4 linked regions of the Homo sapiens genome follow. The protein of the gene in region 2 purifies or fractionates together with the protein of the main gene of each other region. This does not show direct contact. Each region holds a gene or a part of one and is shown on either strand. Other genes may lie near its edges.

Region 1 (8,023 bases), on a different chromosome or scaffold from region 2:
ACAGGTTGGAGTGAAATTAGGGAAGCTTGAAAACCAAAATAAGTGTACAGTGCTTTGTTTTTGACTGGAGCTGATGAGTTCTCTTGTGTTTTACTCTTTTTACAGTGAAACCAGCAGTGTGTGTAGCAGCAGTGACACTGGGCTCTTTACCAATGATGAAGGGCGACAAGGTAATGTCGATCCCAGCTTTGGGACCTTGGTTCCGTGTTTATGGAAATATTTGAATAATCATAGGAGTGACTCATGGAGAATATGGTGACTGTCTATGGCAGTGGTTCTCAAACTTTAAGGCATATGAGAGTCACCTAGGGAACTGTTAAAACTGCACAGTCCTGAGCTCCTAGAAATCAAATAGGTCTAGAGTTGGCCCCTGGAATCTGCATTTTTCACAAGCACCTGAAGTGATTCTTATGCCAGTAGATCAGACTTGGGAATCATTGGTCTAGGTGGTCAGAGTGTTGAGCCTGGGACATTGGGAAGTTTCTTTTTATTAGAATAAAGAAATAGGTTCATGTGTTACTGTCTTTTTTTAGGTGTTAAGACATTATTTTCATATAGAGAAAATCTTGTCACTTTTGTAGCCTTATTTATAAATGATTATAGTGTCCTAGGTGAATATATTATATAAAACATCATCTTCCTCAAAGTAAAACTGGAGTATAGAGTCCTGTGAATAAGGCTGGTATAGTTAATTACCAGTTCTTTATTTTTACTACCTAAACACTAATTTAAAACTTTGCCTATATATAAGGGTATTTTAGAAAATGTTTGTCCTCTAGACTTGTGTGGGGCCACATGCCAATAAAAATTTTATGTAGCCTTTTTGGACTGTGGTTTTCTTAATCTAAATAAGGGATTTAGGGATTTCTAAAGTCTCTTCTCACTCCGAAGTCCAATAATTTTTCTCCACGGGTTAAGCAATTAAAGGACAGACGTAGTGGCTACATGTCTAGGTTGATCCAAGTAGGCTCCCCAGTAACTGAAGAGATACTGGGGCTGTGAGACTTAGCATCCAAGTCCTGATTTTTGGAGAAGGACTGTGGGGCCAGCATCTTGTTCATGCCTCGAAGTTGTAGGCATAGAGGCAGTTTATCCTCCTGGAGTTGTTGAGCTTCCTACTGTAATGGAGGTTGTTGTGAGTACATTTCTATCTTTTAGATTCTGAGGGAATTAGGTGTCATTAGAGATTATGTGTGTGTGTGTACAGGTAGGCTGTAACTAGAGTTTTGATTTTATTATACCAGGAAAGTCTGATGAGTTTCCATGAATGAGTTATATATACTATTCAGAGTTACCAATATTTGCTCTTTTTCTTTGCTTTTCTACAGTGCTAAGAATATCAAAATGCACCTCTTAAAGGCTATGATGCATAAGTATAGAGATGGAAGAAAGTGTGGACCTGTTACAGCAGATTAGATTTTCGGGCCTTTGGAAAGCCTTTTCACTGATAAGGATTCCTTAGTTTATCACGAGAGATTATAGAATGTTCTGTACACCTAGCTTTCCTCTCTTTCTCTGCTTCAGCTTCACACATTCTGGTGACATTGATGCTTAGCGTTCTCAACGTAAAGCTATGGGATTTCTTGCTTCTCTGCCTTTGTTTATGCTGGTCTTTCTGCCTGAAATCTCATCCTCATCTTCCTTGAATGACTGGTCATCTACCAAGACACAGTTTTCCTCTTGCCCCTGCAAGGGCATATTTATGAACTATATCAGTGGGTCTTCTTGGTTTCAATTTCTTGTTGGGGTTGGCCTATAGGAGGCATCAACAGAAGACCAAAGGGAGGGAGGTGAGTGATATTGGATATATTAGTCAAGTATTTATTGTGGTAATGCTGCTTAACAGCCCCCAAATTTTAGTGGCTTCTCACAGTTTACCATACTCATTTCTTGCTATGGGGCTGTGAGTTGTCTGTGGTTCCACTGATCTTGCCTGGGCTCCACTGGTCTACAGGCTTCAAGTTAGGTTTACATCTACTCAGTGTATTGTATTTTGGGACCTAGGGTGGAGGAGCAATGATGATAGGCGGCATGGACTTCCTATGGCAGAGGATGTAAATGCCAGGTGACCAGGCTAGACCACAAGTACATATTTAAAGCCTTTGCTTGAATCATATCTGTTAATTTTCTACTACGTAAAGCAAGTCATATGACCAAGCCCAGAGTCAGTAGGATGAGTAAGTGTGCTCTTCCTAAAAGGGAAGGTACTGTGGAATCCAATGGCAAAGAGCAAACGTCATGGATGGATGATTCTGCTATAGAGAGTACTTGGAAATGCTAATGCAGTCTACCACATTAGATTATTGCTTTCCCTGACACCTTTTCTGTTGGATTGCTGGTTGGCAGTGGTTGTGTTCCTCTGCTGAGGGCCACCACTCTTGTTTGGCAGCCTTCTTTTATAACCACAGTTCTTTGGGTTCTGATAACCATTCTTTCCCTTGCCACTCCAAGTCTAGGAATGGTAAGGGCCTCCTGCTGTGCTGGCTCCACCTGATGTGCTTCACTATCCCCTTGTGGGGTTCCTTGTTAGTACTGTCTCCACCTTTGTGAATAGTCACTTCATTACATCTCTGCAATGACCCCATTTAAATGTGCCATGTGTTTGCTGAGGGGGTTCTGGCCAATAGCCCTTTCTCCTTTGTTCTCTGTGGCTCCTTGTATTATACTTACTGTTTCTTTTACTACTCACTAGATTATGTTATTGTTTGTAGGTACGAGTCTTTTCCCTTGAGGCTTTTCAAGGCAGGACTTATTATGTGCAACCACAGTACCTAGCATGTTCCTGGCATATAGTAAATGTTTAATAAATAATTATTTATAATCCAATTAAGGGGAAAACTCTCCTTTTTTTCCCCCAAACAAAATCGAACATAGATTCTCAGATTGTAAAACAACTAAGCCTATTTGGTTTAAAGCAAAATTCTAGAGGAGCCAGAGGTCAGGAGCCCGATCCACCTAGCTTCTTGCTTATTCCCTGGCAGCGCTCTTTTAAGGAGCTCCTCTATCAGGCATCTTAGTGAACCCTGATTGAAGACTGCTGGTCTATGTGGTCTCACAACGTTCCTTCTAGTTCAGGGAGTCCCTTTTTGTATTATTAAAAATCTTGAATGACTGCTTGAGAACCAAAAAAATTCCATTATAGTTTGCCATTTGTCGTCAGAAAACATGGCCTAATTAAATATACTATTTCAATAAATGGCCTAAGGAATGCTTATGAATAAGAAAAGAATTAATATATTGAAGTACAGAGAAACTAGTTATTATACACTAATGCCTGTATTCAGTTCATCTATGTATCTGGTTTCGTGAGATGCTTTTAGAGTAGCGGTTCTCAAAACGTGGTCCCCAGGCCAGCTTGGCATCATGAGGGAACTTGTTAGAAATACACATTTTTGGTCTTGCCCAGACTAGAATCAGAAACTCTGGAGTAAGGGCTCAGCAGTCCATGTTTTAACAAGCCCTCCTGCTGCTTCAGATGCATGCTCAAAGTTGAGAACTACTGTAAGAGAGACAGCTGTTTGTGGTGTGTTTTTATAAGGGAACACTTTGAGTAACTTTCTTAGTTGTAATATCTCCTGCTTTTCACCAGAATGCAGTTTTCATTGCCCATTTTGGAGATCTCCACAGTGATTTAAGAGTTATTATCCTGCGTGTTAATGACCCATGAATCTCATACTTCATGGGATTGACATTTCTGAGCAACTTGTCTGGAATCCAGTGTACATTAGAGACTGACTACATTATGAACTCTTTAGATATTCTTGTAATAATTTCCTTCAATTTTGCTATTTTGCAAGGGGTATGTGGTGGCAGACATACAATTATCTATTCTTTGTTGGCAGGAATAAACTCTAGTGGAAACTGAGATACTATCACTATAGCCAGTAGAAAGAAGTTTGTACTACCAACAGTCTGGATATATGGATCTGGTTGTGACTTTGCTGTTAATTAACAAATGGCCTTGGGAAAATGGTATAACTTATTGAAAAGCCTTAGGGGATTATGTTATTTGTTGCTGTGGTTATTTTTTTTTTCCGCAGTAGCTTGGATTTCTAGTGTCAAGATGATTTCTGTCCCATTAATGAGATACCAACGATAAATGAAGTATGGACATATATTCTTTATTCACCTTTTATGATAAAGGCAAATATAGCAAGAAATCCCTCAGGTATAGCTAGCTTTGAATTGAGAAACATTTATGGGTTTTGAACCTCCAAGTTTATACCACTGAGAATGGTATAGGGGAGGCAGTTTGTTTTTGTAATAAAGATCTCAGGCTTTTGAGTTAGTCAGGCTTTGGGTTCAGATCCTGGCTTCATTGTTTACTAAATTGACCTTGACTTCTCTAGGCTTTAGTTGCCTTGTTTGTAAGTTGGAGTTAGTGTAGGGCTTGGAAGAGATGACATATTTACAGATTTTTAGCATGGATCCTGGTAGGTTGTAAGGGTTTAGTGAGTGGTAGCTTTATTTATTTATTTTTAGCTATTAAAGCGGTCCAGTCTAACACAGTATGACATTTATGTGAAACCAGGTTGGTGTTCCAGTTTTCATTGTAAAATGAATCAAGAAGGACCAGAACAATGCCTTGATTTATTTAAAAGTATAATCAGCCTGTAATTCCAGCACTTTGAGAGGCTGAGGTGGGTGGGAGGATTGCTTGAGCCCAGGAGTTCAAGAGCAGCCTGGGCAACATAAGGAGACCCAGTTTCTACAGAGAATTAAAAAAAAAAAAAAAGACTGGGCGCGGTGGCTCACGCCTGTAATCCCAGCACTTTGGGAGGCCGAGGCGGGTGGATCAGTTGAGGTCAGGAGTCCAAGACCAGCGTGGCCAACATGGCAAAACCCCGTCTCTACTAAAAAAATACAAAAATTAGCCAGGCATGGTGGCGGGCGCTTGTAATGCCAGCTACTCAGGAGGCTGAGTCAGAGAGAATTGCTTGAACCCGGGAGGGGAGGCGGAGGTTACAGTGAACCAAGATCACGCCACTGCACTCCAGCCTAGGCAACAGAACAAGAATCCATCCCCAAAAAAATAAAAAAATAGCCAGGCATAGTGGCATGAGCCTGTGGTTCCAGCCACTTGGGAGGCTGAGATGGGAGGATTGCCTGAACATGTGATTACGCCACTGCATTCCAGCCTGGGTGACAGAGCAAGACTCTGTCTCAAAAAGGAAAAAAAAAAAAAAGGATGATCAAAACTATGGCACTAAGAAATCATCCCTCCCATTTGTTTTTCTCAGACCTTGTTTAAAATTCTAGCTTATGATATGATGTCTTTACTTTAGGTGATGACGAACAGAGTGATTGGTTCTATGAAGGAGAATGTGTCCCAGGATTCACTGTCCCTAATCTTCTGCCCAAGTGGGCTCCTGATCATTGTTCTGAAGTAGAAAGAATGGATTCTGGATTGGATAAATTTTCAGATTCCACATTCCTTTTACCTTCTCGGCCAGCTCAAAGAGGTGAGTTCTGAGGAGACCAAGAACTTAATGCTTTTATGGTTCTCCTTGGGCAGAGCAATCACCCCCTAGCAAGCATACTCATGCCTTCAATCACACATTAACTATCTGAATTTTGGAGCTAGCTCAAGGATTTTCTAGAGGAGTCAAAGTAAGTCTCAAAGCTTAAGGTTCTCTCCATTCCTTCCTAAACTAATCCATGGAAACTCCTGGGACATATATATTATCAGGAGATTCCTTCAGCTTGCCATTGCCGTTTGTGCCAGATTTAGTGACAGCTGCTTATCCTGATGTGAAACTAAGAGGTTATTGAGTATCGGATTTTGGAAGAGAACAGATTTCAATAAGAACATTCACATACATATTCTTATTTTCAGTAAGAGTATTCACATATAATGGTGTTTTTAAAACGGATGCTTTTAAAATAATTTAAGTAGTTTTATTTTAATGACCCTATTGGGACTTTAACACAAATATGTTTCCTTTTCCCTTTGCTTTTTCTTCAATTATGATGTAGCAAAGTGGGTGGAAAGAACCTAGGACAGAGAGATGGAAATGTGGTGCTAATACTCTGATACTGTCTACCAAGCTCTGTGATAGTCACTGCATTTTCCTGGGATGACAGGGTCATCACTTACGATATGTGACATTGGACAAAACCATTTCTTTTAGCACTATAAATTTATGATTCTAGGGTTCCCAGTAACCCATAATCAACCAGTTAATCAGTTGCCAAGAGTTTGTTGAACATCTGTGGGTGATCAGAATCACACTACGAGATGTAAACTTGTATTATGTAGGATTTTGTCATGGTGAATTTTTGTTTGTCATGGTGAATTTTTGTCATGGCGAACCAGCAGTTGGTGCTTGGTAAAGACTAGCTGAGGCACACATTGCTTTATTGAACATTTTGATGAACATTTCTAAAAGTTTCTAATGGACCACTTAAAATATATACAAACAAGCAAGAATAGTGAGAAGAAACTTAAAATGGCCTATAATCTCATATCCAGAGACAATCTCATTAATAACATTTTGGTGTGGTTTCCTCCAGTTGTTCTTTCCTTGTGTAGAACACATGCAGCAGTGAGAAAAATTGGGTTATCCGACACGTGCTATTTTCCCCATTATGTCATGAATTAGAATGTTTTTGACGTACAAACTAACATTTAATTTTAAATTAAAAATTATTAATAGTACCTTATGTTTGTGTGGTGTTTTCAGTTTATAAAGTCCCTTCTGCTTGCTATTTCATTGGGTCTTCAAAACAGCCCAGTAAGGTAGGACTGAGTGATTATCCCTCTTTTATAGATGGAGGATGCCTAGGTCAAAGGTAAATGGCATGCCTGTGATCATACTGCTAGTGACAAAGACCTGGGAATAATAAATCCTTGGCAAATAGCTCTGTGATGCTAGTTTAAAGGTCAATCTATTAAGATCCTGGGGGTAAAGCCTTCAGTGTACTAGAAACATAGGATTGCATATGGATTTTCTGCATTCGGTATCTGAGGCCTTCCTTCTTTTTTTAGGGTACCATACTCGCTTGAATCGTCTACCTGGAGCTGCAGCTCGATGCCTCAGAAAGGGGCGAAGAAGGCTGGTTGGGAAGGTGATACCTCTCACAGTTAGCTTGGCTCAGTGGGGAGATAATATTCCCTATGGGAGTTGTGTATCCTATTAACAATCAGAGGTGCTACAGAACTCCCTGAAGTTAATGGAGCCAACTGGAATGTGTTGGGAGTTTACAAGAGTGAACATTATGTAGAATGTGAATGGATATACAAATAAAAGATGAAACGTAATTCATATAGAAGTACTGACAAAAAAAAAAAACACTGTCATTACAGTGTCTATTGCCTGTAAACCTACAAGCCTGAGCTGTGTCTTCTGTAACTTTTGATTAATGTTATGTTATTATTGTGTAAGTTAAAATACTCTTGGCTTCTTTATGACTCCTCTTGAATTCATGAATGCATCTTTGTTCTTTCCTAATTTTGGTCTTTCATCCTAGAATTCATTAAAAAAAAAAAACAAAACTGTTACTGAGTTTCAAGAGCCCCTCCTTGGCCATGAGGGAGAACTATCTGCTGTTTATTCAGTTCTGCCTTTGCCAGGGATGGTACTAGGGACTCAGCTCATTTAATCCTTCCAGCAACCTACAAGGGCAAGCACCTTCAGCAGATGAGGAAAACTTAGGTTCGAAGAAGTTAAGGAATGTCTGATGTTACCCAGATAGGAATGGTAGAATAGAGATTTGAACCCAGGTCTACTTTTATCTTTTTACATTTTTATTGAATTTTATTTTTTACTCTACTTTGAGATTGAGGAATAAATTAAGACAGGGCTCATCCTCAGTCAGAGAAGATGGTGGTGGGCAAAGAATAAGGAAGGGAGAGGCATTGAGAGCATTAATTTGTTTGTTCACTTGGTAAGCATTTAGAATGCCTGCTAGGTGGCACAATATGTGCCACAGTCTGGCTTCCCTTAAGGGGATACTGTTTTATAGTCTGACCAGGGAACAGTTTTCTGAAGTTTTAAGCATGCAAAAGAAATGAGACTGTTTA
Region 2 (8,023 bases):
TTATAAAATATGATTATTGAACCAAATGCATTAGAAAGCTAAGTAGCTATAGTCACCTCTTCAGGTAAGTAAGAAGTTAACTAGATTTCTTGAGAGAATTTACACATTATGTAGACTTAATAGCTCACCTCCAGAACTCCTGTTCTGATATTTTTTTTAAATTATTATCATTGGTTATATCATAGATCTGAAATTAATGCCAAAAACAATAAAAATAGCCACTGATTATTGATCATTTGCTGAATGCTACACACTTTAAAGATGTAATTTTGTATAGTCTTCACTGCCCTGTATGGTAAAGTGCCATTGATCTCATTTTACAGATGAGGAATCCCAGGTTCCAAAGGATTAATAAATTGCCCAGTATTACACACTTGTTAGCCAGAATTTAAAACCAAGTTTGACTTGTAAGGCCCTGCCTTTTCTTATCACGCATGCTAATGTCTTATTTGAATGGACTCACTGATTTTTACGCCTAGGGTCTTTTCCTTGGTCCTTTCAGCGATAAGGAAGACAAAATCCATTCTAGGTTTTTCCTGAATGGAACTTCTTTACGTTTAAGACATGGCTCACACCTGTAATCCCAGCACTTTAGGAGGCCAAGGTGGGCGGATCACTTGAGGTCAGAAGCTTGAGAGCAGCCTGGCCAACATGGTGAAACCTCATCTCTACTAAAATTACAAAATTAGCTGGGCACACACCTGTAGTCCCAGCTACTTGGGAGGCTGAGGCGGGAGAATTCCTTGAACTTGAGAGGTGGAGGTTGTGGTGAGCAGAGATAGTGCCACTGTACTCCAGCCTAGGTGACAGAGTGGGACTGTGTCTCAAAAAAAGAAAAAAGACATCACTCCAGTGTAATTAGGCAAATACTGTACTTATGTATCAAGTACATAAAAGCACTACCTTAGGCTCTGGAAGCTATTCCCAAATGTAACAGATCAATCACTGTCCCCTTTATAGGCAAGATGATATGCCACTGGAAGGTCTTATGGGGGAAATAACATTTCAGTTGGGCTGTAAAGAATGGATGGAATTTCAGTAGTAGTTGCCATTGTCAATAAAACAGCAAGTCAGAGCAGTAGAAAAATTCAGTGAAGAGAGAATGGCAAGTAGTCCAGTATATTAAATGTCATGAGGTTAAGTTGCCATAAAACTTTTATTTAACAAAATAATAAGCAGTATATATACTAGGTGTGCTGATTATATTTGCACACCTGCCATGTGCAGGGCACTATGGAGATAAAAAGATGAAGAATAAGTGAGGTCCCTGAAACTCACAGTCCAGCTGGGAGACATAGTACAACAAGTTGTAATATATAAGATTGACATAAATATAATAAAGGTATAAACAAAGCACTTTAACCTAGAATAAAACAGGACCTTGGACATTATTTTACTTCCCCTTTGTACTGCTCAAATTAGCATGTGCATTTTCTGATGTTTACCTGAATGTTATATATTCTATTATCTCTTCACCTTTGCTTATAATCCAACACTTGAATTTGTATTTGGAATCCCTTCAATAAATGGGATTCTCTTTACCAAAAAAGGCAGCTCAACCTTCTGTCCAACTATAACTCCTACCACATTACACAGTACTATAACTGGTACCACATTTACACAGTACCTATATTAAAAATCTAAAAGTCATCCATGACTTTCACCTTTCCTTTCTCCTCTCATCTCTGCGTACAACTCACACCTGCCAGGGAGTGCTAATAAATCTTGACTTTGAGTGTCTTTTAAACATATTCTCTCTTCCCAGTCCCTACGCTGGTACTTGAGTGCAGACCTACTGCTTTGAATTATTTTATTGGCCTCTCTGTTTCTAGTTATCACTGGCAATCCACTCTTCACAACACTATTAGAATTACCTGTTTTGTTTTATTTTATTTTATAATTTTATTTTAATTTTATTTAATTTTAATTTTAATTTTATTTTATTTTATTTTATTTTATTTTATTTGAGACAGGGTCTCATTCTGTTGCCCAGGCTAGAGTACAGTGGCATGATCTCGGCAGCCTAGATGTCCCAGGCTCAACTGATCCTCCCATCCCAGCATCTCAAGTGCCAGGACCACAGGTGCACACAACCACGCCTGTCTAATTTTTGTATTTTTTGTAGTGACAAGATTTCGCCACGTTGCCCAGGCTGGTCTCGAACTCCTGGGCTCAAGCAATCCGCCTACCTCAGCCTCCGAAAGTGCTGGTATTACAGGCATGAGCCACCGTGCCCAACCAGAATTATCTTTTCTAAACAATTATTTTCAGTATTCTAATAGGTTCCAGTTTTAAGCCTGATGAAGCCCAAACTCCTTAGCAAACATACCTACCTAAAGATACTCACCCTGTCTCCCTAAGCAGTGTTTTTAGGCACTGATAATGCAAAGGACTTAGGGAGCTCGGACTGGTGGGTCTCAATCAAATGTCACCTCCTCTTGTTATAATTGTTTATGTATCTTACCTTTCCCACCTCTCTGGAATATGTTTTCAGTGAGTAGTTCTGAAATGTATTCATTTCTGATATTCATCCCAAAATATTTAATGAAAACCTAAGTTCTCAGTTTTGTACCTATTAGCAAAATATAGATGTTTTTGAAATGAAAAAATATACCTGAAAATTATGGCAACTGTTTATTCCAGGAAGAAGTTTGGCTTTTGAGTCAACAAAAAAAGTAGATGTGCAACAAACATCTTATGCCCTTTGGACCTCATCAGCCCCAAGAGAGCTGTATATAACCATGGCCCATAATGTCAGGGAAACATCATTTTTAAAATGTTTTGTAGAGGACTCAATAACCTAAAGTTAAAGGTTGAGGTACAGTCACAATTTTTACCATAAAGTCATGGTAAAATATGCATGTTGGAGCCCTTTTGAGGTATGGAATTTAGGGAACTCTGTCAATGTAATTCTGAGCATATACACTGGGACTTTGCAGCTTGAATGCTGAATCTCCTGTTTTCTTTATACAATGTGGCTGTGTAGAACAGCTCCAAGAAATCCGTTATTATCTTCTCTGACTCCTCCTTGAGTGGTTTGAAGGGTCCCCCTCCCATTGCACCAGTCATTTAGAGATGAAGGCATGCATGCTTCCTCAAATCATTGCGACCTGCTGTCATAATGTCAGTTTCAGTGGTATGTGGTATTAGAATGATGGAAGAGTTTTATTCAGCATAGGATAGAGCAGGGGTCAGCAAACTACAGCCAGCCACCTATTTTTGAAAGCCTTGCAAGCTGTTTTTACATTTTTTATGTTTTACATTTTTTAATAGTTAAAAAAATTAGAATAAGAGTAATATTTAATAACATGAAAAGCTTATGAAATTAAATTTCAGTGTAAAAGGTTCATTGGAAGCCAAACATACCCATTCATTTACCTTTCTTGTATGGCTGCTTTTGTTCTGCAACAGTGGACTTGAGTCATTGCTGCAGAGACCCTCTGGTCCACAAAGCCAAAAATATTTACCATCTTGCTTGCCCTTCACAGAAAAACTTGCTGACCCTAGTATAGTACAGGATATGTTGGAAAGAAAAGAATAAATCTAGAACTGTGAGGAATGTTTCCAGAAAAACAAAGGTGGTGTCAGTGTAGTCATTGATATGAAAGGAGAGCCGTGGGAACTGCATTCTAGCACCTAAAGGAATGGGTGAGGAGCATGAGCAACAGATGAATAAGTATGGGGAAGAGGCCCCAGAATTTAGCAATGGCTGTTCTGTAACAGGGCTCCCACAGTTCACAGGTTAGCAATGTGTGTGAGTCCGTGTTTAATTTGCCCTGTTAAATTCTAACTTCTAGGTTTTGATCTTTCATTCTAGACTACTGACATAATTTTGAGTTCCAATTCTGTTTGCTGAATTAGCTGTCTTTCCATTTGGTCTTTAAAAATAGACTTTCAGGCTATGTAATAAGTAGTTTTTTACTTACTGCACAGTACTTTATTGCTTTGAATGTCAGGTGTGGCAACAGTAAACATTTGTGTGTGTGATATGTGTTTGAGGGCCGTTCTACTGAGTCATTTCTAATTTACCAGGAACATGTTTGCTGCCAATTATATGTTGAGACTTCATTTCAGACGAATTTTTTACAAATTAAACTTTCTCTTCTCTTGAAACTTCAGACATGTAGGTATGAAAATATCAAATTAATAACAATTGTTTTCTGTCTTAAAAGAATTCAGAGATCATTGGGAACCTTTTAAAACTTGATGGAGATGTTAGCCTAATGATTTTGTGGGATAAAATGAAAGGTATTAATTACTCTTTGAGGAATTCATTTATAGTTACTCTCTCCCATATCTGTAGAAGTCTTTCATATTTCTGTGAACAAAAGAACTTTTATCTGAATAAGGGTGCTGCTAGGTAGGTTGTTACCAAATTGAACAGCCATAGGGCTATGCTTAAGGATTTGTCATTCCACATTTATATTACTAATGATAAAAACATGGAGGACATGAAAATTATATTTGCAGTTAACAATAGCTGGGAAGGAAGAATTACTCAAAATTATGTCAGTAGTCTAGAATGCTAGATCAAAGCCTAGAAGTTAGAATTTAACAGGGCAGGCCAGGCATGGTGGCTCATGCCTACAATCCCAGCATTTTGGGAGGCCGAGGTGGGTGGATCACTTGAGGCCAGGAGTTCGAGACCAGCCTGGCAAACATGACGAAACCCCATCTGTACTAAAAAAAAAAAAAAAAAAAAATCAAAAAATTAGCTGGGCATGATGGTATGTGCTTGTAATTCCAGCTATTCAGGAGGCTGAGGCATGAGAATTGCTTGAACCCGAGAAGCGGAGGTTGCAGTGAGCCGAGATCGTGCCACTGCACTCCAGCCTGGGTGACAGAACGAGACTGTGTCTCAAAAACAACAACAAAAAAGAATTTAACAGGGCAATTAAAGCCTTGCACTTAATTTTTTAGAAAGCTTTTTAAAAAAATAGATTCAGGGGTACAAGTGCATTTGTGTCACATGGATATATTGGGTCATGGTGAAGTCTGGGCTTTTAGTGTGCTCATCACCTAAATAGCGTACATTGTACCCAATAGGTAGTATTTAATTCCTCACCCCCTTCCCACTCTCTTACTGTTTGGTCTGTTTTTCCACTCTATGCCTGTGTATCCATTTAGTTCCCACTTAAAAGTGAAAACAGGCAGTTTTTTACTTCCTGCTTGAGTCATCTCACTTAGGATAATGACATCCAGTTCCATCCATGTTACTGCACAAGACATCATTTTTATGGCTGTGTAGTAGTCCATGATACATATACACACCATATTTTTAGTCCAGTCATCCACTGATGGACACTTAGGTTGGTATCTTTGCTATTATGAATAGGGCTGTGATTAACATATGAGTGCAGGTGTCTTTTTCATACAATAATTTCTTTTCCTTTGGGCAGATACCCTGTAATGGGATAGCCAAGTCAAATGGTAGTTCTTTGAGAAATCTCTAAACTACTTTCCATAGTGGCTGAACTAATTTACATTTCCACCAGCAGTGTATAAGCGTTCCCTTTTCTTTGTATGTTCGCCAACATTTGTTGTTTTTTAACTTTTTACTAATAGCCATTCCAACTGCTGTAAAGCAGTACCTCATTGTGATTTTAATTTGCATTTCTCTGATGATTAGTGATGTTGAACATTTTTTAATGTGTTTGTTTGCTGCTCTTTTGAAAAAATGTCTGTTCATATAAAAAAAAAAAACAATGAGGTTGTTTTTTTTTCTCGTTTTTTGAGTTCCTTGTAGATTCTGGATATCATCCCTTTGTTGGAGGCATAGTTTGCAAATATTTTTTCCCATTCTGTAGGTTGTCTGTTTATGCTGTTGATTATTCCAAATTTTTTAGCAATCATTTTTAAAATATAGTATGAGGATACTGACTTGATAAAAATTCAAGGTGGAAAAAAATCTAGGTAGTTTATCAGCCCAATTTGAAATATGAAAACATGTCAAGTTTTTTAACAATCAATCTTAGGTTGTATTGTTCCAGGAGCAACAAAAATAATAATGATGTAATGCTTTGATCGATTATACCTGGATTAGTTGCTTCAGATTTGGTTGGCACATTTTCTGCTGAGCCATAATAGGGAGTCAACCTTATGGGGAGGTGGGCATGGTGGCATGTGCCTGTAATCCCAGCTATACAGGAGGCTGAGGTGGGAGGATCACTTGAGCCCGGAAGTCCAAGGCTGCATTGAGCTATGATGGTGCCACTGCACTCCAGCCTGGGCAACAGAGTGAGACCCTGTCTCTTAAAGGAAAAAAAAAAAACCCATGGGGATGGGGATTGATTGCAAATTGGGAAAGGGAAGAGGGAGTGGCAGCTAACAGATGGTGTTTGCTGTGTTCAGTATCTGATAGACTGCCATGTGGAAAAGAGAGTGAGGTCTGGTCTGTACTGCTCAGCAGAGGACCCTGACTGTAACCCTTCAACTGAAGTCAGGTTTAGGCTTGTAATGAAGACCTTATTAAGATAATATGTACCCAGTAGTGGAAAAGATTACCTCACAGTTTGAAATAAGACATTGGCATTTGGTGTTAGGTAAAATACTGTATGATTTCTAAGTTGTCTTTCAACCTAAGGATTCAGTGGATGTTTACGGGTGATGACTATCACAGCTTAATGATGTTTGTGTGATTAGTAATATTTATTGAGCACTTACTGTGTGGCAAGTACCATGCTAAGCAATTGAAATATATTATTCTTTAATTCTTAGAACCCTGTGAAGTAGATGCCATTTGTGTCCCTATTATACAGATTAGAAAAATGAGACTTAGGGCATGGAGGCTCATGCCTTTAATCCTAGCAGGATCACTTGAGGCCAGGAGTTCAATACTAGCCTGAGCAACATAGAGAGACCCAGTCTCTTAAAAAAAAAAAAAAAGAAAGAAAGAAAAGAAAAGAAAAATGAAACTAAAAGAGGTTAAATAAACCACCTAAGGTTACTGTCAAGTGCCACTTATAGGGTTCAAGCCCACATAGGTTTAATTCCAGAGCTCATACTTTTAATCAGTATGCTATACTGAGTCCCTGGTTTACCCACTTATTAGTGTAATGACAAATAGTAATGTATCAATATAACACTTTGTTGTATCTGTCTTTATGAGAAAATACATTTCTAGCTGACGCTCTAGTTAAAATGATAAATGAGTGAGATCCTTACCTTTAGAAAGTGATAGTGCTCTTTAGAGTCAATTAGTGCAGTGAAATTCATCATATTAGGGATTCTGGTGACCAATTTCTATTAAAAAATCAAATGGCTTTTTTTTTTTTTTTTTTTTCCCCCCTGGAGACAGAGTCTCACTCTGTCATCCAGTCTGGAGTGCAGTGGCATGATCTCAGCTCGCTGCAACCTCCACCTCCCAGGTTCAAGCGATTCCCATGCCTCAGCCTCCTGAGTAGCTGGGATTACAGGCATAGCACTACTACACCTGGCTAATTTTTGTATTTTTAGTAGAGACAGGGTTTCGCCATTTTGGCCAGGTTGGTCCAGAACTCCTGACCTCAAGTGAGCCACCTGCCTCAGCCTCCCAAAATGCTGAGATTACAAAGGTGCACCATGCCTGGCTTCAACTGGCTTTTTTAGAGACCTAAATCATTTTATGTATAAATGTGCAAAAAATTAAGTTATGTGTAACTCTGCAAAAAAATGGACTTTAATATTTGTTATTCTTTAGAAAATGAATTGTGCAGGTTTATACATTTTGTTTTATTTGATAAATCTATAAATCTATAGATGTAGCCTATATAAATTTCTAAGTGATGTTTCTACTTTTGTGATTGTATATAAGCTAAATTTGAATATCTACCAATGGGTATTTGGAAATTTCATTGAAATCTGCCATCTCTGGAAAGTTGTCAACTTTAACAGTGAATGTTTTTGTTTAATTCTAGGGGGAAATTTGCAGTGGTGAGAAAATGTATAAAGAAAGATTCTGGGAAAGAATTTGCTGCAAAGTTCATGAGAAAAAGAAGAAAAGGCCAAGATTGTCGGATGGAAATAATTCATGAGATTGCTGTAC
Region 3 (8,023 bases), on a different chromosome or scaffold from region 2:
GAATTCGGGAGGCCAGGTAGCCCACAGCAGTGTAGGGCTCCTGGATCTGGGCGATAGGGTAGATCCCTGCCAGAACCTGAGGGAAATGAGCACTCAGTACTTTCCTCAATGTCCCACCTTCTCTCTTTCCCTTACCCACCCTCCCCGTCATACCTGCAACTGCCTAGGCAGAAGAGATGGGAAGATGAGGCCTGGGCAGTCACAGAGCTTCACAGAGGGGGTAAGAAAGTAGGTCTGAAAGTATCGGGTATGGCCCGGGGTTCTGGAGACACTCACGACTTTCCGCCCCACCAGCCCATTGATCAGCGAGGACTTTCCCACATTAGGGAAACCTGAGGAAGGCAAGGAAAATTAACGTTTAACAGGTTTCTACTCTGTGATGGGACTTGGTGCTATACCTATAGGTAAAAGGGGAACTAAGGCTCAGAAATTAAGGAAATGGTATTGCAGAATACAAATCACGCTCTGGGCTGCCAGGGTTAAATCCTGGCCCTTCCACTTACCAGCTTTGTGATGTCAGGGCAACTAACTTTCTGAGCCTCTGTTTCTTCATTTTACAGTGTGGACACCTCCCTACCTCAGGGTGGTCAGGATTAAATGAGATAACCAATACAACTTGTGTGGGTCAGTGCCTGCAGTACAGTAAGTACCCAGTACCAGTGATCCACATCTCATAATTACTATGACTTGGCCTGGCACAGTGGCTCACGCTTGTAATCCCAGCGTGATTACTTTGGGAGGCCAAGGCGGGTGGATCACCTGAGGTCAGGACTTCAAGACCAGCCTGGCCAACATGGTGAAACCCCATCTCTACTAAAAATACAAAAATTAGCTGGGCGTGGTGGTGGGCGCCTGTAATTGCAGCTACTTGGGAGGCTGAGGCAGGAGAACCACTTGAACCCAGGAGGCGGAGGTTGCAGTGAGCTGAGATTGCACCATTGCACTCCAGCCTGGGCAATAAGAGGGAAACTCCATCTCAAAAAATAATAATAATAATTACGATGACTTGTCCAAGGAGAAAACTGGAAGCCTTGGGGCTCACTGCCACTCTGCTCACTCACCACCACCAGTTTTTGTGTTTCTGGCTGACTTCAGTGCCTTCATCTCCCTTCCACAGAGCATCTCCTTTACCCCACCTCAGCTGCCCACTCCCATGGTAATACCTGCATCTTGTCACTTCACAGCTCCAAAGCCTCAATTCCAAGCACCCCTCTCTGCCCTGACAACTCATCTTTCCAGCTCACTTACTCTGGTTACTCCATGCCAGTAAGTCTTTGACCCCTGACCTTAACACAGTAACACTATGCAATACCCAACTCGTGTCCTCAATTTCCTTCTTACTTGACTCAGATTTCATGATCCAGCTCCTCAGCCAGGCCCGTTCACAGACCTGGAACTCCCTGGTCCCACTTCTCCCCTCTATCTTACTCACCTGGCAAAATCCCAACCCTGTAAAATCCAGCTCTGCCCATTCAGCACTGCTCCTGGGCAGCTGACTGTGGCTAAGAAAAGATGTACCACTGTGCTCACTCTTTACAACACATGCAAGTATCTAGGAGGAAGGGAGGGAAGGAGGGAGAAAAAAGTTCTCCTTTGACGACCACCACCAGACCTAGTTCTCTGTCCGCTTTGCAGGAAAACTCCTTAAAAGACTTACCTACTTTTTTCACCATTTCTTCCTGCTATCTTCTTTGTAACTGTAAACTACAACATACAAAAAAATGCACAGAACATACATGTGCAGCCTGATGAACCCCATACCACCCAATGTGTGACAACATGTTCCATCTGTCCTTGTTTTTTTTGTTTTTGTTTTTGAGACAGAGTCTCACTCCCTCACCCGGGCTGGAGTGCAGTGGTGCGATGTTGGCTCACTACAACCTCATCCTCCCAGGTTCAAGCGATTCTCGTGCCTCAACCTCCTGAGTAGCTGAGACCACAGGCGTGCGGCTCCACACCTGGCTAACTTTTTGTATTTTTAGTAGAGATAGGGTTTTGCCATGTTGGCCAGGCTGGTCTCAAACTCCTGACCTCAAGTAATGCGCCTGCCTCAGCCTCCCAAAGTGCTAGGATTACAGGGATGAGCCACCATACCGGCCGCCACTCATCCTTCTTGATCATAATCCTCTCCCTCTATACATGCAAGCTTTATCCTTTTAAGGAAATCAACTCCTTACATTTCTCTTTAGTTTATGACCTGTGTATCTCTCAACAATGCAGCTTAATTTTGCAGCTTTCAAACTTGATAGAACTGAAATTGTGCAGTATGGATGCTATTGGGTCAGACTCTTTTCACACAATGTTATGTGAAGTTGTTGCACCTTCTCTCATGGGCCTACTCCAGTTTGGCTTTCTCCACCCCACTGAAACCACGGATCTTCACATTGCCAAGCCTGCTGAGCAGCTCTCTGTTCTCTCATTTGGCCTGTCAGCAACAGTTGACACAGCTGATTCCTCCTTTCCTCTTCAAACACCTTCTTCATTTGACTTCTGGGACGCTCCCTTGGTTTTCCTCCTTCTCACTGTCCTTTGCCCAACTAAATGCTGGCTTGTCCTAAGGCTCAGTCCTTGACCTCCTCTTCTCCAACTATTTCCTTTCTCTCCTACATCTCATCCAATTCCATGGCTTTTTTTTTTTTTTTTTTGACGAAGTCTTGCTCTGTCACCCAGGCTGGAGTGCAGTGGTATGATCTTGGCTCACCGTAACCTCTGCCTCCAGGATTCAAGCAATTCTCCTGCCTCACCCTCCTGAGTATCTGGGACTACAGGCACGCACCACCACACACGGCTAATTTTCTGTATTTTTTGGTAGAGACAGGGTTTCACCATGTTGGCCAGGCTGGTCTCAAACTCCTGGCCTCAAGTGATCCACCTGCCTCAGCCTCCCAAAGGGCTGGGATTATAGGCATGAGCCACTGTGCCCAGCCTAATCCTGTGGCTTTAAATACCACTTATATCCATCAATGGTTCCCCAAATTTAAATCTTTCCCAAATTCAAATTTCCGTCCTCTTCTCTCCCCTAAGCTGCTGACTACTTACCCACTGCCTATTCAACATCTCCACTAGGGATATTTAAAAAGAATCTGAAATTTCATTTCTGATTCCCCTCTCCTCCCCAAAGCCTTCAAATCTGCTTCTCCCCCAGTCTTCCCATCTCAGTATTTCCAGTTGCTCAAGACAAAAACCTGGAAGTCCTTCTTTATCCTCACTTTCCTTCACGTGCCAACTGCAAGCCATCAGCGATCTCATTTTCTCTACCTTCAAAATATATCATGCTTCCGGCCCTGTCTCACCACCTCCAGCTCCAGCATCCTACTCTAAGCAACTCTTATTTCTCTCCTAGATTACTGAAATAGCCTCAACTGCTCTCTCTGCTCCCTTTCTTGCCCACCCCCCATCATTTATTCTCTACTCAGGAGGTAAACTTATAAGAAACAAAATCAGATCCTATCATTCCCCTGTTCAAAACCTACCCTTGGCTTCTCATGAGACTTGGAATAAAATCCAAAATGGCTGTCACAGCCTCAGGGCTCTACATGATGTGGGCCCTGGTGATCTTGCTGACCTCATCCCCAGTACTTTATCCTGGCTCCCATACTCCAATCCCCTGGGCACTCTTGCTGGTCCTAGAATCTCCAAGCCCGTTCCCTCCTCAAGACCCTTTCCCCACAGTTCTGAATGGCTCACTTCATCTCATCATCCAGTTCTCTCCTCAGGGAGGTTTTCCCTGAGCACCTCTCCTCTCAGTCACTCTCTATCCCCTTTCATTGCTTTATTGCCTTCACTGCCCCTACATGATTTCGGATCACAAAATCTATTTACTCACAAGAAAATAAGCTCCATGAATCTACAGACCTTTTTGCCATTTCCACAGCAGTATGTCCCATCCCTAGAATATCTGGCACCTGGTTAAGTGTTCAGTACATATTTGTTGAATGGGTAAATGAATGAGAGCTGGAGGGAAATCCAAACTCAGGGGTGCCTGTGCCACAGCAAACACTCTCCCTCTCACACCACCTGGAATAGAGATCAGCTAGAGCAGAGGCTGCTAAGAGAGGGAACAGAGGCTCCTTGTGACAGGGAGACTAGGATCAGAAGTCAGGGAAGGGACAGCCGGGTGAAATGACTGGAAAGAGGAGCAATCACTCAGCAGTAAGGCAGGTTCTTCCAAAGACAAAAAGGACACAGAGATAAGTCAGGGCACTTCCAAGGAACCCAACTACCTACTCCACACTCCCAAATTTATTCTGGGTTGGGCCCTTTTTGGTTCCAATATCACCTCAGATACCATAACTTGTCCAAGGTCTCTTCTTACCTCTCCCACCCTAAATGAAGACGGGCCCTGGGTCCTAATCATACATTCCTTTTTCCTCCACTGTGAGCTGAGACAAAGCCCTTAAGAGGAGATTCTCCTTGGCAACAAACTTAAAGGGTTAAAACCTAGAAGAATACTAATTCTTGCTGAGCTCCTACTATGATTTGATAATCACTGTACTACAGACTAATTACTACAATTCAAATGGTTTATATAAACCACTTAAAACAGTGCCTGTTACATAGTAAGCACCATATAAATACTGAGTTTTAACAATAATAATTGTTATTATTGTTATCACTATTTGTCAGGCATTCTTACACTCTCTTAACACTATTCCCATCATTCCTCACATCCATTCTTTTTTTTTAAAGACAGGGTCTCTATCAGCCAGGCTGGAGTGCAGTGGCACAATCATAGCTCACTGCAGCCTTGAACTCTTGGGCTCAAGTGATCCTCCTGCCTCAGCCTCTGAAGTAGCAGAGACTACAGGCACATACCACCACACTTGGCTAGTTTTCTTTATCTTTTGTAAAGATGGGGTTTCACTATGTTGCCCAGACTAGTCTTGAGCTCCTGGTCTCAAGCAATCCTCCCACCTCAGCCTCCCAAAGCGCTGGGACTATATAGGCATGAGCCCTCACACATGGCCGTCATCCATTCTTTTACTCAGGTATCAATGTCCTTATTTTTAAAATCAAAGTAACTAAGACTCAGAGTAGCAAAATCACTTACTCAAGACCTCACAGCTGAGAAGAGGTGGAATTTAACTCAGGCTGTCATGATCCTTCCACTGCAGCAGACGCCTCTTCTGCCTTGCCCACCGCCACTGGCAGAGATCACCCCTCAGACACCCTGGGGCCTAATGAGACCTGATCGCCCTCTCTCTTCTCCGAATATGAAAACTCTGTACCTCCTTGGAGGCCACCACGCACAAGCTGCCACTTCCTTACCCACACAGCCGATGGTCACCACCCCATCCTTGTAGCGCTCTTGGGTTGGGCCAGTTGGCTCCATTGCTGAATCAGTCTGCTGCTCCACCAGGACTGCTGGGCCATCCTCCTCTTCCTCCTCCTCCCCAGAGCCATTACCCCAGGTGGCCCCAGCCACATCCCGAGCAATCTTCTCCCGCCAGCTGCTCAAGTCCACTGCTCAAAGAAGGAGAAGATTAAAGAGGTTCTCCCCAGGGCTGCTGTGCATGATGGCACATACTGTGCCCTGCACAGATTATGTAACTGGCACCCTCTGGAGTTGTACAGTGCCAACCTAAATAAGAGCAGGTCAGAGAATCTCCCAAAAGTCATTTGACCCTACCCTCCCTGGAATCACGCACGTTTCTCTGAGCTTCTGAAAAGTACTGGGAAGGCTAAAGGCAGCAAGCCACTGAGGCTCCTGACTACCTGCTGCCTCTCGTCCCACCAAGTCAGTCTGCTCCTTATTCTGTCCCTTCCCCTGGCCTCTTGCACATATCCACCATAGAGGGGTTGGCTTCAGGAAAGGTGAGCAAAATGATTCTGCATCTTTGGTCTCCCCCATGTCCTCCTACAGCCCTCCTCTAAGGGCCACATACCTTTCCCCACAGTGATGGCTTCACAGGCTCTCAGCAACTGCTCTGGCCCCAGGGCCCGAGTCCATCCTCTCCCCCGCCTCCGACTCTTCTTCAAGACTGAGATCAGAGGGCACAAAAGGATGGGCACACGGGCTTAGGCCTCTCATCTCTCCCACCACCCTTAGGCCCAAGACCAGGTGCCCCCTTGTCAATAAGCCTCTCTGTTCTCCCCTTTGTCCCCTGCCAACTCACCTCTCCCAAGTTGCCCTCTCTCATTGCCCACTCACCACTACTAGGGTCCTGTGGGGTGCGGGGGTCCCGAGGAAAAGAGGTGAAAAGGACGACGTGGAGCTGGGGATAGTGTTGATGGAAATAATGCTTCCAGGCAACCACAAGAGCTGGCGGGGCCAGATCCACCTTGTTCAAAACCAGCACCAGGGCCAGTCCAAGTTCTCCAGTCACATACTCATAAAGTGCTGGCGGGAAATTCACAACCTAGGACAGAGTTGATAAGAGGATGGAGCAGTGAAAGTCAACCCAGAGTTCTCTGCCTCCAGCTCCCCACTCAGCAGGTGTAGCTCAGAGACAAGGCCCTGGTGGTAGCAGACTCTGGGCTAAAAACTATAAACCAGACAAACTGAAAAACAAAGACAAAACAGGGGTTAGTAATACTTCTGAGTCTCAGAGGGCTTCCTATAGGTCATGATTAGAGATGGAAATGAACCCAAAACAAGACAAGGAAACAGCATCACTTAGCACACTGAGGTAAAGGCTGGGATCGGAAACAGGGATGGGGGTTAGGGTAGAAATTAGTCTGCTTTTTTGTGTGTGCACAACTATGTAAGTGTGTACACGTGCATATATGCATGCATGCAAGTACGTGCACATGTGTGCATGTTTGTGTGTTAATGTGACTGTGAACATGTGTGCAAACATGCCTGTGTATATTGATGTGCACATGATGTACGTGTGAGTATGTGTGTGTACATATTATTAAGGACCTCCAACCTAAATGGTCCTCACAGACCTCCCTTTCTCCCACTGGAGGACAAGAGTGAAGTTGCAGAGCTAGGATTCACACAGGGCAGTCCAGCAGCAGTCTACAGCCTTAACTACTACTCTAGCATTCCAGGTGGGTTCTGTAGCAACTGATGTGGCAGTGCTAGAGAAATGAGATAAGGAAGAAAGGGCATCTTTGGGCTGGGCAGGAGGAAGTCCCCAGCTGCATTCATAGAATCCCTGGAGCTCCAACACTTGGATTTTCTATTGGTCTGTGATGAGCTAAAGGACAGGACATGGCTGTTTTGAAGAGAAGAGTGAGCTGGCCAAGGGAGGAATGACAGGCTATAAGAGAATAAAAAACTGAGTTCCTAACTGCGGACATCAGCACTAGGTAGAGATTAGAAAGACAGGAAGATAGATACCTCTCTGTCTCCCAACTCTTGCCTCTGACCTTTGCCCCTGAAAAACCTTTCTCCCTCCTCCTTGCCCACCCTTATCCCTAGTACTCACTGGATGTCGGATATCAGTGATAAGCAGGACGATGTCAGACATCTCTAACACCCGCCACAGCTGCCTCCATGTCTAAAAAGACAGGATCAGGAAGAGAAACTGAAAACAGAGTCCCTCTCCAGCCTGATCCCAAACCAATTTGACCATAGGTCACTATGCCCCACTCCTGTCCCTAGAGTACACTGTCACCTCCAGATTGTGCTCAAAGTAGCTGAGTTTCTCAGAGGAGTAAGCCCCATGAATCTTCCCAAGATAGTCTTGGAAGCTCCGTTCCTCTTGGCTCATTAGTTGCTCCTTGGACATCTCATAGCTCCAAGGAGGACGTCGAGGAAAGTCCAGAACTGGGAATTCAGGAAAAAGTCCAAGTGTGAGGAAATCTTCAGGATTCAAGAGTACATCCCAGACCCCTCCTTCCTCACAGTCGGCTTTTACCTTTCCAAACTCCTTCCCCAGCCCAATGCCTGTCTTGCTCTCACTCACCTGAGCCAGGCTGATACACCTCCCGGATGTCCAGCTCCAACAACTCAGCACTGACCGGCTGTAGAACTTGCTCCCGGGCTGCTCTCTTTCTCCTCTCTACCTCCTCCCTGCTGTCTCTCTCAAAATGCAGTCGGTATCTAAGGGAACAGGGACCGAGACATCCAGAG
Region 4 (8,023 bases), on a different chromosome or scaffold from region 2:
TCCTTAAGTTGAGTGAATACAAATTTTTTTTGAGATGGAGTTTTGCCCTTTCACCCAGGCTGAACTGCAGTGTCAGGATATCTGCTCACAGCAACCTCTGCCTCCTGGGTTCAAGTGATTCTCCTGCCTCAGCCTCCCGAGTAGCTGGGATTACAGGCGCGTGCCACCACACCCAGCTAATTTTTTATATTTTTGGTAGAGACGAAGTTTCACCCTGTTGGCCAGGCTGGTCTTGAACTCCTGACCTCAAGTGATCGCCCACCTTGGCCTCCCAAAGTGCTAGGATTACAGAGGTGAGCCACTGAGCCCAGCCCAGTGAATATAAATTTTATTGGTTTTATTTATTTTAGTTTGGTTTATTTATTTTGATTTCTTGGTCATCAGATTAAATAAATCTGATAGTTATTTTTCTTTAGTTGTCAATTTCCAGTCTTGGTTTTGAGTTTGACTGTTGTCATGATACTCTTCTGAATCCTTTTAGCCTTTACCTGTACCTCTTTTCCTTACTTTTTCAGAACTCTTATGATTCCACTTAAAGAAGCAGTGTTTTTTACTTCTGTGTGGGCAGCTTCTCTCAGCAGAAGTGGGATTGATGTTCAGTCAGTCAGTTTTCACACTCAGCCTACAGGGCCTTGTAAAAGTAAGGAGCAGGAGCAGGGTGAAACTAAAAAGTAATCTTGCTTTTTTAAAGTTATCTTTTTTTTTTTTTTTTTGAGACGGAGTTTCGCTCTTGTTGCCCAGGCTGGAGTGCAATGGCGCCATCTCCGCTCACCGCAACCTCCGCCTCCTGGGTTCAAGCGATTCTCCTGCCTCAGCCTCCCGAGTAGCTGGGATTACAGTCATGTGCTGCCACGCCTGCCTAATTTTGTATTTCTAGTAGAGAAGGGGTTTCTCCATGTTAGTCAGGCTGGTCTCAAACTCCCGACCTCAGGTAATCTGCCCGCCTTGGCCTCCCAAAGTGCTGGGATTACAGGTGTGAGCCACTGCGCCCGGCCTAAAGTTCTCTTCTATATTCCTGAACTGCTAGGAGAGGAAACTATGTGATCTATGTGTTATACAGATTTATCGGAACATATTTGTAGCAGCTGATAATAGTAAATGTGATTTTAAAATACTTTAAAGTAGCCAATATAACTGAGATTTGATAAGTTGTTTGATTAGTTGTTAGGAATTTTGGCTTTAATTTACAGTGTTTTAAGTTTTGTTTCTGTTCTCTTTCATGTCTGTTCAAAATAAGGGACCTCATTCCTCTTTGCTCAGACTCTGCCACTTAATAGGTAGATGGTGTAAATTCCTAAATTATTAACTTGACTTTAAATAATTTTAAAACCTACCTAAATGAGTATTTTCTAGTTAAGTGACAATTAATCTAAAGTGGAAATCTATCAGCAGGGACTTAATGCATATGTGGTATTTATACCTGGTTAAATTAAAAACCCATTTACTGAGCATTTACATGCCAGGTGGTAATGGGCACATAAAATAAGCAGTTTGGGGCAGGGCACGGTGGCTCACGCCTGTAATCCCAGCACTTTGGGAGGCCGAGGCGGGCGGATCACCTGAAGTTCGGAGTTTGAGACCAGCCTGACCAACTTGGAGAAACACTGTCTCTACTAAAAATACAAAATTAGTTGGGCATGGTGGCGCATGCCTGTAATCCCAGCTACCCAGGAGGCTGAGGCAGGAGAATCTCTTGAACCTGGGAGGCAGCTGTGGTGAGCCAAGATTGTGCCATTGCACTCCAGCCTGGGCAACAAGAGGGAAACTCTGTCTCAAAAAAAAAAACAACAATAAAAACAAAACAAGCAAGCAGTCTCTGCCCACAGAACTCAACCTAGTGAACCAGATGATTTCTGAGTTTCCTTCCTGCTCTAAAATGTGGAGAAGAGAAAGTAGATTATAAGGGAAAAAAGTACTGCATAACAAAACAACTGTAGTATGGAACTAGTGTTTTCCCTTATAAATTCATTTTAAATAAGGTATTAGAAAATAGCATTTTTCTTGGTATCTCTAAGCTTTAAAAGGCTGGAAACTTAAATGTCGTTTTTTGGGCTGGGCATGGTAACTCACGCCTGTAATCCCAGCACTTTGGGAAGCCGAGGCAGGTGGATCACAAGATCAGGAGTTCGAAACCAGCCTAGCCAACATGATGAAACCGTGTCTCTACTAAAAATACAAAAATCAGATGGGTGTGGTGGTGCACGCCTGTAATCCCAGCTACTTGGGAGGCTGAGGCAGGAGAATTGCTTGAATCTGGGAGGTGAAAGTTGCAGTGAGCAGGGATCATGCCATTGCACTCCAGCTCTGGGCAACAGAGCAAGACTCCCTCTCGGGAGGTGGGGGGGGAAATGTCGTTTTTTTGTAATGCCAGTTCATTTACAAAATACATTTGCTTGTAATTCAAGTTCATGTATTAAGTTCTGATTGTTGTTCAGAGAGAAACAACATTAAATCTGTTAAAACTTAGAGCAGCCATTCCTAAGAATGTATATAACCTAGAATTGTGCCAGGCATGGTGGCTTATGCCTGTAATCCCAGCACTTTGGGAGGCTGAGGCGGCGGATCATGAGGTCAGGAGATCGAGACCATCCTGGCTAACGTGGTGAAACCCCGTCTCTACTAAAAATACAAAAAATTAGCCAGACGTGGTGGCGGGCACCTGTAGTCCCAGCTACTCGGGAGGTTTGAGGCAGGAGAATGGCATGAACCCAGGAGGAGGAGCTTGCAGTGAGCCAAGATCGCGCCACTGCACTCCAGCCTGGGCGACAGAGCGAGACTCCGTCTCAAAAAAAAACAAAAAACTAGAATTGTGCTTGGGTAGTCTAGAAATTAAGTTTATTTTGATTGATTGATTGATTGATTGAGATGGGGTCTTACTATGTTGGCCAGGCTGGTCTCCAACTCCTGGGCCCAAGTGATCCTCCCATTTCAGCCTCTCATAGTGCTGGGATTACAGATGTGAGCCACTGTGCCTGGCTGAAATTAAGTTTTTATTAGCATAATTAGCATTAGAGAAACAAGATACTGACCAAAGTGACCAGTAGAAGTTATTTTTTTACTGAGTTGACTAGTTTAAAAAAATGACCTTTACAATAATGTCTGGAGTCTGCATTTTGTTAGGTGCCTTATAATTAGAGAAAGGTATTGTCGGGGATAGGGAAGTTGGGTGTGGACTAAAATTTAAGGAAAACAGGATTGTTTTTCTTTCTGTATTAAGAACAAAAACTTCATGTGGTTAAAATTTTAAGCAGTATCCTGTCTGCCTTAGTTTTAACCTAGCATAGAATCATAGCTTGTTCTTAAATCAACAGTTTAGTGTCAAGGGTTTCTTACTATTTTTCTCTGCTGAAATCAACTAAGCACTTTGCAGTGAGCCTGAAGGTGTGTATAGTGGAGAGAATTTTGGCAGCTTTTATCTTGGGACCTCAGTTCCTGGCATGTGGTTATCCATCTTTATGTGAATTGTCTTCTGAAGGAGATAGAAAATGACCAGGGCAGAAATCTTGGAGAAAATTTAGAACCTTTGTTTTAGGGCCAGGCATGGTAGCTCACACCTGTAATCTCAGCACCTTGGGAGGCAGAGTTGGGAGGGTAGCTTGAGCCCAGGAGTTTTAGACCAGCCGGGGCAACAAAGTGAAACCCTGTCTCTATTAAAAAATTATTTTTAAAAATTAAAAGAACCTCTGTTTTAAATTATTCTTGATTTACACTGATGATGCTTTTGAGTACTTTAGAGAGTCATTAGCCACAGTGCTTTTTTTTTTTTTTTTTTTTTGCATTTGATAACTTCTTTGGCTTCTTACTTGATGCTAGTTTATTCACAGCCCTGGTGCAGGTCCAGGTACATGCCAGAAGTAGTAATATCTGCAATATGAAGTGATTTGAGCAGCCATTATCACCTTTGACCTATTTATAGAGTTTATATCAGTGGAGAAAAAGTTGGCTGGCAAGCAAGCAAAGCTGATCTCTGGTGGTTGCAATCTCACAATTTATATTTAAGTTCCGGGTAGGCCAAATTCAGTGCATTATGGACAGATCCATTCAGCTGTATTAATATTAGAGTTCCCTTTCTGTACTCTAACTTTTTAGCACTCCAGTTTCCCAGTCAGCTTCACTGTTGAAGGAAAGAAAACCGAAAAACTTACCACACTAAAAAAAAAAAGGAAGAGTTCCTTAATGTAATATGATAGTCAGTGTTCAGATTTCCCTCTTATCTCATAAATGTGTCAGATCAAGAGCCAAATAAGGTCTCTGCATTGTTTTGTAATCTGTAGGTTCCCCCTCCATTTCTTTTCCCTAGCAGATTATTAGTTACAAAAGAAGTTTTCCCAGTGTGGATTTAGCAGTTACATTCCTTTGGATTTCTGTGGTGGTGGTGGTAAACGTTTTTCTCTGACCCCTGGGTTTCTAGTTAATTGGTATTAGATTTAGAAGCTTGATCAGATTGTTTCTATAATATATATTCTTTCTCTTGCTTCTTTTGCAGGGGATGAGGGGAATACTTTATAGATGGTACTTGGATCAGTAGGTGCATAATATTTGGTTCCCTGTGATGTTAGTAGCTGTTGGTGATCGTTGCCCAGTTGTGTTAATTTGTTACTCATAATTCCTTACTCTGAATGGGGCATCCTCTCTCATCAGTCCTAGTTTGAGTCTTTTATGCTTGTTTATAGCTTCTTCAAACTTTTCTTTCTTTTGAGGATTAAGGGAAGGGATGAGTTGCTGTGGAGAAAAGGGCTCTTTCTACTATATTGTATTTCTGTAAGTGTTTTTTATTTTAGTCCTAATCTTTGGTTCTTGCATTGTCTGCATTGTCTATGCTGCAGCTTCTTGGTGGGAAAACTGACTCAAAATCCCAGCAAATAATTGAAAGAAGTCCTTCAAAACCAAATTTTTAAAAAAATTTTTTTCTGAGTTAGAGTCTTGCTCTGTCGCCCAGGCTGGAGTGCAGTGGCGCGATCTCAGCTCACTGCAACCTCCGTCTCCCGGGTTCAAGCGATTCTCCTGCCTCAGCCTCCTGAGTAGCTAGGATTACAGGTGTGTGCCACCATGCCTGGCTAATTTTTGTATTTTATTTTTGAGACGGAGCCTCACAGTGTCACCCGGGCTGGTGTGCAGTGGCATGATCTCAGCTACTTGCAACCTCTGCCTCCTGGGTTCAAGCGATTTTCCTGCCTCAGCCTCCTGAGTAGCTAGGATTACAGGTGCCTACCACCACGCTTGGCTAATTTTTGGTATTTTTAGTAGAGACGGGGTTTCACTAGGTTGGCCAGGCTGGTCTCGAACTCCTGACCTCGTGATCTGCCTGCCTTGGCCTCCCAAAGTGCTGGGATTACAGGTGTAAGCCACTGCGCCCAGCAGTTTTTGTATTTTTAATAGAGACGGGGTTTCAGCATGTTGGCTAGGCTGGTCTCGAATTCCTGACCTTGTGATCTGCCTGCCTCGGCCTCCCAAAGTGCTGGGATGACAGGCGTGAGCTACTGCGCCCGGCCTCGAAAACCAAAATTTATGGCCAGGTGTTGTGGCTCACACTTGTCATCTCAGCACTTTGGGAGGCCAAGGTGGGCAGATGGCTTAAATACAGGAGTTTGAGACCAGACTGGGTAACATAGTGAAACTCCGTCTCTCCTAAAAATACAAAAATTAGCCTGGCTTGGTGGCATGCGGCTGTAGTCCCAGCTACTCAGGAAGCTGAGGTGGGAGAATCACCTGAGCCTAGGAAGGTAAGGCTGCAATGAGCTGTGATTGTGCCACTACACTCCAGCCTGGGTGATAGAAGTGAGACCCTGTCTCTAACAACAACAACAACAACAACAAAGATTTAGGAAGATGAGTATTATGAATGCAATGGAGTCTCTTCATAGAATTGAATGTGTAAGGAGAGGGGCCTTCATTTGAATTTTAGTAAGATACTGCTTTCTACCTCATTTTGTGGTTATGTAGCCAAAGATACTTAGTTTCATAGTGCCTGATTCTTGCATATTTGCGTATACACACACAATCACTTTAAATGCAGTATTCTAAATGTAAGGAAACAGCTTTACTAGGCTATTAGCAGTTGAGTCAGTTTTTGTCTTAGGTTTTATGTAGAAAGAAAAGGGAAGTTACTCTGTGAGAAATCATGTTGATTCTATGTAATGGAATGTATTTTCATATACAAATGAATAGTACTTTTAAGCAAACAAGTTGTTTCATTAGTGGTCTTGGTTTAAAAGATTCAGTTGATCAATTCAACAAATATCAGATATTGATTATGTGTTAGGAACTGTGAGTGAACTGATACTGAACATGATCCCTGTTTTCATGGGAGATGCAACATAGAGGGCTGAGGGAGTAAGTAAAAACATTTAGGTGCATAATTTGTTTCTTTTCAGTTGTCTTTCTCATAGTGTGCTATTTATTCTCCTCCCTCATGTATAAAGTTAACTCTTAACTTCTTGGGCTTAAATTTCCTCTGATAGCTCTGTGTGTGCACATGTGCCACAGTCAGAAAAATCAGGTAATAATTGTTAGGTGTTAATTTTCTTGGATGATTACTAGTATTGTGATTGTCTTCCACCATTGTCATAGCTCTCTACTGTGCTAGCCAACTTGTCTAACTGAAATAACTTTTAAGTCTTTTTGTGACAATTGCTAAAGCCAGCAGGAAGTAGGTCCACAATAATGTTTGAAAGCCCTGCTTCATTCTAGTTTTATCTTCATGCATTGCAATTTGTCTCTTGTTTTCCAGTCTGCATATTCCCTATCCTCAATTCTTGTTTAAAAAACCAGGTAAGGCCGGGCGTGGTGGCTCATGCCTGTAATCCCAGTACTTTGTGAGGCCTAGGCGGGCAGATCACTTGAGGTCAGGAGTTTGAGACCAGCCTGGCCAACATGATGAAACCCCGACTCTACTAAAAATACAAAAATTAGCTGGGCTTGCTGGCTTACACTGGTAATCTCAGCTACTCAGGAGGCTGAGGAAGGAGAATCGCTTGAACCCAGGAGGTGGAGGTTTCTGTGAGCTGAGATCGTGCCACTGCACTGCAGCCTGGGCAGCTTGAGTGAGACCCTGTCTCAAAGAATAAAAATAAAAAAACAGGCAAAACTTCGAAAATACCTTAAGTTGGGCATTTTGGACAGGGAGGGGGGGCATTTTTTTGAAGTGTTTAGGTATAGAATAGGCAAACTTTCACAAAGAGCTAGGAGTGTTTTTATTTTATTATTTTTATTGATTGATTTAAAAGTTTATGGAGAGTGGTTTTTAAAGATGGACAGCTGATTATCATGAATTTTTTTTTTTTTTGAGACAAAGTCTTGCTCTGTCGCCAGGCTGGAGTGCAGTGGTGCTATCTCGGCTCACTGCAGCCTCCACCTCCCAGGTTCAAGCGATTCTCCTGCCTCAGCCTCCCGAGTGGTTGGGACTACAGGTGCACGCCACTATGCCCACCTAATTTTTGTATTTTTAGTAGAGATTGGGTTTCACCATGTCGGCCAGGATGGTCTCAATCTCTTGACCTCATGATTCTCCTGCCTTGGTCTCCCAAAGTGGTGGGATTACAGGAGTGAGCCACCGCACCCAACTGGTGATTTTTTTTTTTTTTTTTTTTTTTTGAGACGGAGTCTCGCTCTGTTGCCCAGGCTGGAGTGCAGTGGCGGGATCTCGGCTCACTACAAGCTCCACCTTCCGGGTTCACACCATTCTCCTGCCTTAGCCTCTCGAGTAGCTGAGACTACAGGCGCCCGCCACCACGCCCAGCTAATTTTGTTTTTGTACTTTTAGTAGAGAGGGGGTTTCACTGTGTTAGCCAGGATGGTTTTGAACTCCTGACCTCGTGATCCGCCCACCTCGGCCTCCCAAAGTGCTGGGATTACAGGCGTGAGCCCCCGTGCCCGGCCGAATTTTGTTTTTTTAACCTTACTCCCAACTATTAAAGAACTTACTACTACTTTTTTTTTTTTTTAGATGGAGTTTCTCTCTTGTTGCCCAGGCTGGAGTGCAGTGGTATGATCTAGGCTCACTGCAACCTCTGCCTCCCGGATT

Evidence for each region.
Region 1: the proteins of STK17A (region 2) and GPATCH2L purify together in Homo sapiens (affinity purification with mass spectrometry, with the first as the bait; one large-scale study listed by BioGRID). This does not show direct contact.
Region 3: the proteins of STK17A (region 2) and GNL1 purify together in Homo sapiens (affinity purification with mass spectrometry, with the first as the bait; one large-scale study listed by BioGRID). This does not show direct contact.
Region 4: the proteins of STK17A (region 2) and ARK2N purify together in Homo sapiens (affinity purification with mass spectrometry, with the first as the bait; one large-scale study listed by BioGRID). This does not show direct contact.

Annotation. Positions count from the first base shown.
Region 1 is NC_000014.9:76,166,558-76,174,580, forward strand, and holds part of GPATCH2L (G patch domain-containing protein 2-like), read left to right. Parts: intron 1-105; coding exon 106-170; coding exon of another isoform or gene 171-259; exon of another isoform or gene 260-4,641; intron 4,642-5,285; coding exon 5,286-5,462; coding exon of another isoform or gene 5,463-5,473; exon of another isoform or gene 5,474-6,988; coding exon 6,989-7,068; exon of another isoform or gene 7,069-8,023.
Region 2 is NC_000007.14:43,588,006-43,596,028, forward strand, and holds part of STK17A (serine/threonine-protein kinase 17A), read left to right. Parts: intron 1-7,895; coding exon 7,896-8,023.
Region 3 is NC_000006.12:30,547,199-30,555,221, forward strand, and holds part of GNL1 (guanine nucleotide-binding protein-like 1), read right to left. Parts: intron 7,994-8,023; coding exon 7,857-7,993; intron 7,718-7,856; coding exon 7,566-7,717; intron 7,449-7,565; coding exon 7,377-7,448; intron 6,360-7,376; coding exon 6,152-6,359; intron 5,982-6,151; coding exon 5,886-5,981; intron 5,464-5,885; coding exon 5,269-5,463; intron 333-5,268; coding exon 154-332; intron 77-153; coding exon 1-76. UniProt on the Homo sapiens protein: Possible regulatory or functional link with the histocompatibility cluster.
Region 4 is NC_000018.10:46,178,930-46,186,952, forward strand, and holds part of ARK2N (protein ARK2N), read left to right. Parts: intron 1-8,023. UniProt on the Homo sapiens protein: AMPK substrate important for exercise capacity and skeletal muscle function.